Linked DNA regions of Homo sapiens: region 2 is linked to region 1. The links come from fine-mapping of genetic effects on gene expression. A gene starts in region 1. The other region holds a variant in brackets. All regions are shown on one strand. Distances are from middle to middle. Region 1 holds the start of LINC02331 (long intergenic non-protein coding RNA 2331). Region 2 overlaps BMP4 (bone morphogenetic protein 4).

The links. PIP is the estimated chance that this variant, and not a neighbour inherited with it, causes the effect. A credible set is the group of variants that fine-mapping cannot tell apart.
Region 2: its variant is the best candidate, but not a certain one, in a credible set for the expression of LINC02331 in cerebellar hemisphere (GTEx, PIP 0.87).

Annotation. Positions count from the first base shown.
Region 1 is chr14:53,848,796-53,853,190 of GRCh38, forward strand. LINC02331 (long intergenic non-protein coding RNA 2331) reads right to left here and starts at 2,031. Exons shown (of 6, transcript NR_184221.1): 1 at 1,900-2,031; 2 at 1,020-1,175. RefSeq lists an enhancer at 1,290-2,489.
Region 2 is chr14:53,948,725-53,953,119 of GRCh38, forward strand. BMP4 (bone morphogenetic protein 4) reads right to left here. Exons shown (of 4, transcript NM_001202.6): 3 at 3,129-3,505; 4 at 1,012-2,164. The coding sequence starts at 3,498. The coding sequence ends at 1,308. Among named protein-coding and RNA genes, the nearest start is that of MIR5580, 2.4 kb to the left of the region's middle. The variant A/G (reference allele first, on the strand shown) is at 2,080.

The DNA of each region.
Region 1 (4,395 bases):
GGGGTGTTCATCCTACAGATTTTTCAAATGAAAAAAACAGAATGGGTATCTCCATTAAATGAACACATCTATGTATTAACTAAAAGAAAATGACAGTAACAATGATCATTTCAGACAGAAATCTGAGACACTGAGGTACATGTGATACAAGTGAATTCGCTGAAAACAAGCAGCCTCCTGACTTAGAATGATGGGTGGCTCCGTCTGAGATGTGCAAGTGTGGTAAAAATGTGATTCCTCTTTCCACGTAGTTTGCCAGCCTTTTGAGCCCTCATTTCCATACCCTCCCTCCCCGCGCCTTGTCATTGGCCCATCCCTTATTTCATCTCAGCCCTAATCCCTACCCTGGGGAGCATAGTTGGAGATGGGGTGAAGTTCAAAGATGGGATAAATCTGAGTCACAATGTATTCATAATTAAAATAGATACATTTTTAGAGTTTGCTTTTTAGACTATGTCAAACTATTTTCCACCAAAACCAAATGGCCACATCCAAACAGCAAAAGCCCTAGTGAATTAACTGCATTATGAAGCAAAAATCATAGAAGATTATATAAATATTTTTTAAATTCTTCAGGAATAAATTTATCCCTGTATTGCATAATATTTTCTGGGTGGAACACAATAACACATTTCTATAACTCCATCATGTCTCTTATTGTTCCTTAGCAGCTTATTTTATTTGTCTCAACAGCTATTTTCAATAGAACTGCATTTTAAGGAACTTAAAAAGCATACTCTCTCCTTCCATTCTGATGTCAGATTGTACAATAAAGCAGCCCACTGTGACTATCGGGACGTAAATTTTACCTTTTAGGGAAGAGGAGTATTGAAAAATGCCAGGGGAGCATCTCCTGGTGGGAGAAAGCTAAAGAAATCCCTGTTTGTTCCAAGACAGGTGGCTAGGCATTCATATATCATACATACTTTCTTCGGGGACCATTTTGCTGAGTCAGCAGAGTGAAATCTGGTGAAATAGATCCACAAATCTCCCACTGGCATCCATTTCCTTCATCTAACCTTTATTGCAAGTAGATGTCTCCAAGACTAGGCATTCATCCATTCTTTCATCCGTCAAAAAATGATGACTTTCTGTGTGTTAGGAAACGAAGATATTTCAGTGAACGAAGCAGGCATGGCTGTTGCCTTCATGGAACTAACAGTTGAGCAGGAAAGCTGGAAAATAAACAAAATATTCCTCAAATAACTAATTCATCATAGAAGATTTCCCCCAGTTGTCAGGAGTGCTGAGTTTGACCGTGTGAGGTTGGGGGAGAAAGATGGTTGCCAAGCGCTTCAAATTCGTACTCTTTCACTATGAAACCAGAGGCAAAGCTGTTTCTACTCTAGTCCCCAAAATTGTAAGGCAGGAGGGCCCTTGATAACCCGGAAGGCTTGGATCACCATCCGCACCCCTAAGAGACCTGATCATATGCCCACCCGGTAGGTTGGGGGTCAGGAAAATATGTTCCAGAGGAGTAGAGATGAGGAAATTTGCTGATCAGACCAAAACAAACAAACAAAAACTCTACCCCTATATTCACATATGTATAGGCCATAAGTATCTGTGGCTTATTTTAAAATCAAGCAGAAAGCCGGTGCAATGTTTAAGCAAGGAAGTGATTGATCAGATTTATTTAAATCGCCCTGGCTGCATTGTGGACAATGGCATGGATATAAACTAAGATTAGAGGCAATGAGAACAGTTAGAAGATTATTTCAGACCAGCGAAGATGGTACCTTGGTGATGGCTTTGATGATAAAAACAGAGTCAAGAGCTATTTAGTAGATGAAATATCAACAGGTGGTTGACTATGAAAGGATAATGAAAAGGGAGAGATCAAGACAAACGGATTTCCAAGTTGAGCGACATATTCAGCAATTCTTAACCTAGCCGTACCTTAAACTCACGTGGAGATCTTCACAACAGAAATTCTGATTTAATTGGTTCAGCAGGTGGTCCAGGAGCAGGTATGTTTCAAAGCCCTCAGATGTTTCAAATGTGTACTCAGGTTAGAGAGTCCCTCTAAATGAGACAATCGTTCCAAGGTAGATAACACTGGACAGGGAGGAAGTTTCAGAGAAAATGCCATGCATTCCATCCTGTATGGATTTTTTTCAGAGAGGCTTGTAACTCTTCCAAGTGAGATATCAAGTTAAGAGTTGAATTACATATCCGGGTGTTAGAGGAAAGATCTAAATTGAAGACAGGTGAAAGTGATTGACATTCCTATTGTAATAGAAGTCATGGTTGAAGAGGCAATGGCCAAGGAAAAGAGTATAGTGAGAAAATAAAAGGGCCCTGAAAAACCTCTTATTAAAGATAGAGGATAATGAGTCAGCAAAAGAGACTGTGAAGGAATGTTGGTAAGTTAGAAGGAAACCAGGAAAATAGGCGTTGCCAAAGTCAATGCAAGAGAATGTTTCACGAAGAGAGTGCATAAGTGGGCTGAAAGCTGTGTTTAATTTTGACAAGTCCTGGAACTCCATCCTTCTCCCAACTGTCTAACCTCTGGGTTGATTTTAGGCTCTCCCCGTGATAAGGCTCTACTTTGCCAAAATAACCATTAGCAGAGAATTATGATTTAAAAGTCAAATTGTGGGAAACTCCAAAGCCCATTTTTTGAAGATTTGGAAAATAATTACAATCTCATTTCAGATACTAGACACAAAAGATAGCATTCTATGTTCACATGCAGTCACGATTTCTAGCACTTTCTTATATTATGTTCACCTGTTTGTGGGCTTGCAATTGGCAAGGATTGCAACTCTTTCAGTGTTTGCTAGCATTCTCTCTGTTGCCAAGCAGACACAGGGCAGAACGAATACAGAGTGATCTTTCAGGACTTGTCTTCTCTTCGGGCTCTTACTGTAACATATACAGATTTTTGTTACTGTCACAGTATCCATGTCATTTTATTTCTTTCATGTGTGTCCTCTTATGCTTTCCATGAGAGCAGGTAATATTATTAGATGAGCTTTTATCTCTGGGGCCTGTCACAGTGCCTAGCACTGTGAACTGAATACGTGTTTGCTGAATGAATGGAAAGTTGCATAATTTTTCTGTGAACTCATGAACAGCCAATCTGCAAATTCCATCTCTAAGTACTCTTTCATCGTAGACTGTAAAATATTGTTTAAATAAAGGATGTGGTTTACCCATGTTTAAATTTTAGGTCCATTTTCTATGGAGTTAGTAAAATCTCATTCCAATACAAATTGTTTAATCCCTTGGTGCCGGGGGTTTTCTGCCTGTAAAATAAGAATGGCAATGCTGATTTCCCCTGGCACTGCAGTGAAGACTGTAGAACTCAGAACTCTACTTGTCTGTAAGAGGTACTCGGGTTTGACAACCAGTTGATCACCATTTTTTCTTATTCTATCTGAGTATATGTTGGTTCAGGCACTGTGAGGGGCAACAGATAAGTTCTCTGGATCTATTTACAGCTGCTCCTGGAGCAGTTGCTAAAGGCTGGGTCATGTTGATTGTGTTTGTTTTTGTTTTTGTTGTTTGTTTGTTTGCTACGGGAGTGATTTTTCTAGAGTTCTCCAGCCCCTTTTGGGCTGGACAATAGGAAGTAGGGCAGACCTAGGCCAGCTACAGCAAATGTAGTCAATACTGGTTTTAAGGTCCATCAGACTTGGATAAGTTGTTCAGAGCTAATCTCCCCTCTAGTTCAATTCTGCTATCCAGTTGATGTAAGGGTCTCTTGGTAGAAAACATGTAAAAGAAGTGAGAGATTACCTTATCCAAGGGCAAACTTTCTGACTACAATTTAAATAATAAAATGTATCAACTCACTAGATGCATTGATTGATTGCCAGGCTCCTGAAGTGCCTTACCACATTGTCTCATTTTATATTCATGCAGGTATTGTAGCTATCCCCATTTTACACATGCAGAGAGTGAGGCTCAGAGATGTTAAACAATCTGCCTAGCATCACACAGCTAGCAATAGGCAGAGACCAGACAGAAACTCAAATCTCCCTGACTCCCAGCTCAGCCTCTTCACTACTATTCAATATTGCCCAGTAGATGCTGATTTTCTCTGTGTAGGCTTCTAATGTGCTTTTAGCGTAAAGCTAATTTTCATTAATAGGCTGAATATATGCAATCTGACCTCAAAGGACATACATAGGGGTTTTCTTCTCATTTAAGATTAGTTTGAGGCAAAAACAAAACATGAAATAAGATCAAGTACAGTTGACCTTTGAACAGCACGGGTTTGAACTGTGTGGGTCCACTTATACACTTATTTTCTTCTGCCTCTGCCACCCCTGAGATACCAAGACAAAACCCCTCCTCTTTCTCCTTCTCCTTAGCCTACTCAACATGAAGACTACAAGCATAGAGACCTTTATGATGATTCACTTCCACTTAATAAATAGGAAATAT
Region 2 (4,395 bases), 100 kb after region 1:
TCCAGGGAAGAGGGTGTGAGGGAGGCAGTACAGAGCGAAAAGGAGAGTTGACATTTGACTCGAGATTTCTGTATAATAGTGGGACACCTTCACAGTGCCTGCTTAGAAATTCTGACCCTTTAGTATCTGACCCCATTGTCAACCCCCACCCAGCCCAATCTGTTGGGATCCTAAACTTGATGAAGGCCTTCACATTGGGAAAAGAGGACAAGGGAAAAAGTCAAGAAACAATGGGAAATTCTATCAAGTGGCATATTAAAACAGTAGTCATCAAACTTTTTGAAGGTAGGGTACATTATTTGTTACAAAAAAAAAAAAAAAAGACAAAATAGCAGTGCATGCCTGTAATCCCAAAGAGGCCGAAATGAGAAGATTGCTTGAGCCCAGGAGTTCAAGACCAGCCTGGGGCAACAAAGAGAGAACTTGTTTCAAAAAAAAAAAAAGACAAAAGAAAAAACAAAAGAGTCCTACCTGGAGAAAAAAAAAATAAGTTTAAAAACATGCCTTCACACACACATTATGATGTTAGTGTACAAATTAGTTTTGATTTGGAAATATCACATTGGTACCTGTAATAACTGGAGATACCCTGAGGTATCATGAAAGCAGAGGTGGGTATCATTTTTCTAGGGTTGAGACCTCATCACGCTCAGCTGTGATACACCTCAACAGGTGAGTGAAACAGAAGATGTACAAGGGGCCTGAAATGAAGTCTTTAATCTGACCTACACTCCTTTCATCCCAGTGTTTCTCCAAGGCATGTGTCATCCAGATGGGAGAGGATACTGCATCCTTGTTAACATTAAATAGAAATAGAAAACAATTCATGCTGGCAATTACCATCTCTCTCTGCCAACAGTTTACTTCCTGTCCCTACAACTTAACCACCTCCAGGTACCACCTTTTGACTTCCATCCAGCCTCCAACTCACCTGAACAGAAAAAAGCCTCATTCAAAAGAGATGAGCCCGAAGGAAAAGAGAAAGGATTAAGGAGAAAAAAAAAATCATGATTTACCTTTAAAATAATGACTCATTTTATTTTTTTCTTTTAATACGTAGTTATAAATATATTTTGTCAAAATATATGATCAATATGGTCAAAACATTTGCACGTAAAGTCATAAATAAGGTCAAGGTGAATGTTTAGGGATTTTTTCCTTTTTTTTTTTTTTTTTTAAATAAAAGTCCAGCTATAAGGAAGCAGTCTGTGTAGTGTGTGGGTGAGTGGATGGGAACGTGTGTGTGTGGTGTATGTGGTGTGTGTGTGTGGTGTGTATATCTGTCTATCCTCAAGGACTGCCTGATCTCAGCGGCACCCACATCCCTCTACTACCATCTCCTGATAATTTTTCAGTACCACCTTATCATACTCATCCAGGTACAGCATGGAGATGGCACTCAGTTCAGTGGGCACACAACAGGCTTTGGGGATACTGGAATTGACAGAATTGACCAGGGTCTGCACAATGGCATGGTTGGTTGAGTTGAGGTGGTCAGCCAGTGGAAAGGGGCAGTCCCCATGGCAGTAGAAGGCCTGGTAGCCTGGTGGGGCCACAATCCAGTCATTCCAGCCCACATCGCTGAAGTCCACATAGAGCGAGTGGCGCCGGCAGTTCTTATTCTTCTTCCTGGCCCGCTGTGAGTGATGCTTAGGGCTACGCTTGGCCCTCCGGCGTCGGGTCAAGGCATGGCCCCGGCCATCATGGCCAAAGGTGACCAGGAGGGGCCGGAGCTGGGCCCAATTCCCACTCCCTTGAGGTAACGATCGGCTAATCCTGACATGCTGGCCCTGGTGGGTCCGAGTCTGATGGAGGTGAGTCACCTCAATGGCTAGCCCATAGTTTGGCTGCTTCTCCCGGGTCCAGCGAAGGACCGCAGGGCTCACATCAAAAGTTTCCCACCGTGTCACATTGTGGTGGACCAGTCTCGTGTCCAGTAGTCGTGTGATGAGGTGCCCAGGCACCACTTCTGCTGGGGGCTTCATAACCTCATAAATGTTTATACGGTGGAAGCCCCTTTCCCAATCAGGGCCCTGGTCCACCTGCTCCCGGAAGAGCCGAAGCTCTGCAGAGGAGATC[A/G]CCTCGTTCTCAGGGATGCTGCTGAGGTTAAAGAGGAAACGAAAAGCAGAGTTTTCACTGGTCCCTGGGATGTTCTCCAGATGTTCTAGGCACAGTTAGGAAGGAAGGGGAAAAGAAAAAGCATATGAACTTTTTTCAAAGATGGAAGAGTCAAGAGATAGCTCAGGGTTGGGCAATGAATGGTGAATTCTGCTTATGCAGGGGAAACCTACTGGGGGAAAATAAGCATACCCCTTAATTTGAAGGAGCAGATAAGTGGGGCAGCTAACAAACCAGCAAAATGTAGCTAGCATTTCTCAAGCACCAAAGACAGAAACTATATCCAGCCTCCTTGATATGTCTAATAATTTCTATGTGTCAACTCCTCTATGGCACCACAATCAGACTCCTCTTTTAAACCCCCCACCTTGGCTTTGTGTCCACAGTTTTCTTTACAAGTGGTTGTAAAGAAAAAGAGGGGCCAACAGAGCACAGGCAGGAGGAAACATGCAGACAACCACCCTCTCCCTCTTCCACTATTGAGTATGTTACTAAACATTTCCCCAGCGATCTTGGAAACACAGAGCATGCCTTGTTGATCATGTTACAGAGGGGAAAATAAATTCCAACACAGTAATGATGCTGGTGGATTAATAACTCAGATTTACTTTGGAAAAGAAACATCCGCTAGGAAACATTCAGATCGGATTACAAGGCCCCTATTGAATAAACCCGACAAACACACAGCTGTAATATTAAATTCAGTAGGTGCTTTGAAAAAAACGGGCAGAAAACCTAGCAGAAAAGGCTTTGATATAGCAAAAACACACCGCTGGGGCTAGCCCACGTCTGAGTGCTGTCATTCCCCTTCCCCTGAACACCTCCCCCTCTGTCTCCAAAAAATAAGTTCGGCGGCAGCTCTGCAAATTCTTGGAGGTAAGCAGCTCTGTTCCTCAGCCTCCTGGACTGGGGCTTTGATGTAACCCGAACTCTTCTTCCCCAGGGCTTTCACTGCCCCTCTAGCCAGTCCCACCAGCCCTCCCCCACGCAGACTGGGGGAAGAGACTGACCTTCGTGGTGGAAGCTCCTCACGGTGTTGGCCCGGCTGGCCGGGCGCTCAGGATACTCAAGACCAGTGCTGTGGATCTGCTCTTCCTCCTCCTCCCCAGACTGAAGCCGGTAAAGATCCCGCATGTAGTCCGGAATGACGGCACTCTTGCTAGGCTGCGGGCGGCGGCGCAGCCCAAACATCTGCAGAAGTGTCGCCTCGAAGTCCCGCAGGAGCTCATGGCTCTGCCCTGAGCGGCGTCCTCCCGCGTGGCCCTGAATCTCGGCGACTTTTTTCTTCCCCGTCTCAGGTATCAAACTAGCATGGCTCGCGCCTCCTAGCAGGACTTGGCATAATAAAACGACCATCAGCATTCGGTTACCAGGAATCATGGTGTCTCTGGGGAGGGGGAGGGGAGTGGAAGGTTAAAGAATAAATAAACACCAATAAATAGGGAGAAATAGAGATGTGTCTGCATATGCATTTAGGGCTAGAAATGGAGGGGCAAGATGGAAAGCAGGTCAGAAAGATCAAGTTTGTGTCTTCTCCCTCACACCACCCGCCCACCCACCAGCTGCAGCCATGCACGGCCTGAAAGTAAGAATTGCCCTGTAATTACTTGGTCTAACTTGTTTACAGTCAAATAACCCCAAATCAGATAGCCTCCATCCTGTTAATCTTTTTTTGTCCTAACTGCTATCTGGGCCATGATCTCAGCGTGGCTTCTTGAAGGATAAACAGTTAACATTGAGGGGGTGAAAAGGGGTGGGGGAGGGAGAATTAAAATGGCATTGCTCTCCACTTTAGACCTTCAGCTTCTCTCCCTTTTCCTCCACCCTCAGAGCCCAACTTTCACAACTTCCAGTTGGTTCAGAGCCAGAGGGAGGGAAAGTGAGAGGCAGGGGCTGGGCGAAGACAGAGGGCGACAGGGTCCAGAAGCCGAGAAGGTGGTCTGGGAGCTAACCGGGTGGCTTGAGGGCTTATTTTATTGTGGCCGATGAGTTTGAAATATTCAGCCAAAAGTGCCTGATCGTGCCCGCTCATCCCCAGGGAAGGGGTGAGAGACGATTCCGGAGAGACCTCTGTGAGTTTTGACAAGAGAGTGGGAACGCGCCACGGAGACACTGGGGGCTCTCCCAGACAAGTTGGATAGGGGAAGGGAGTGGTTAGCCCTCAAGGTACAACCCCGGGCTTTCATCTCTTTAGCTCCCTCGCGCTCCCCTTTCTTGCAACGCTGAGAGGGCGAGTGCGCGCTAGCAGCACTTTAAAAGGAACCCGTACGCTTCCAG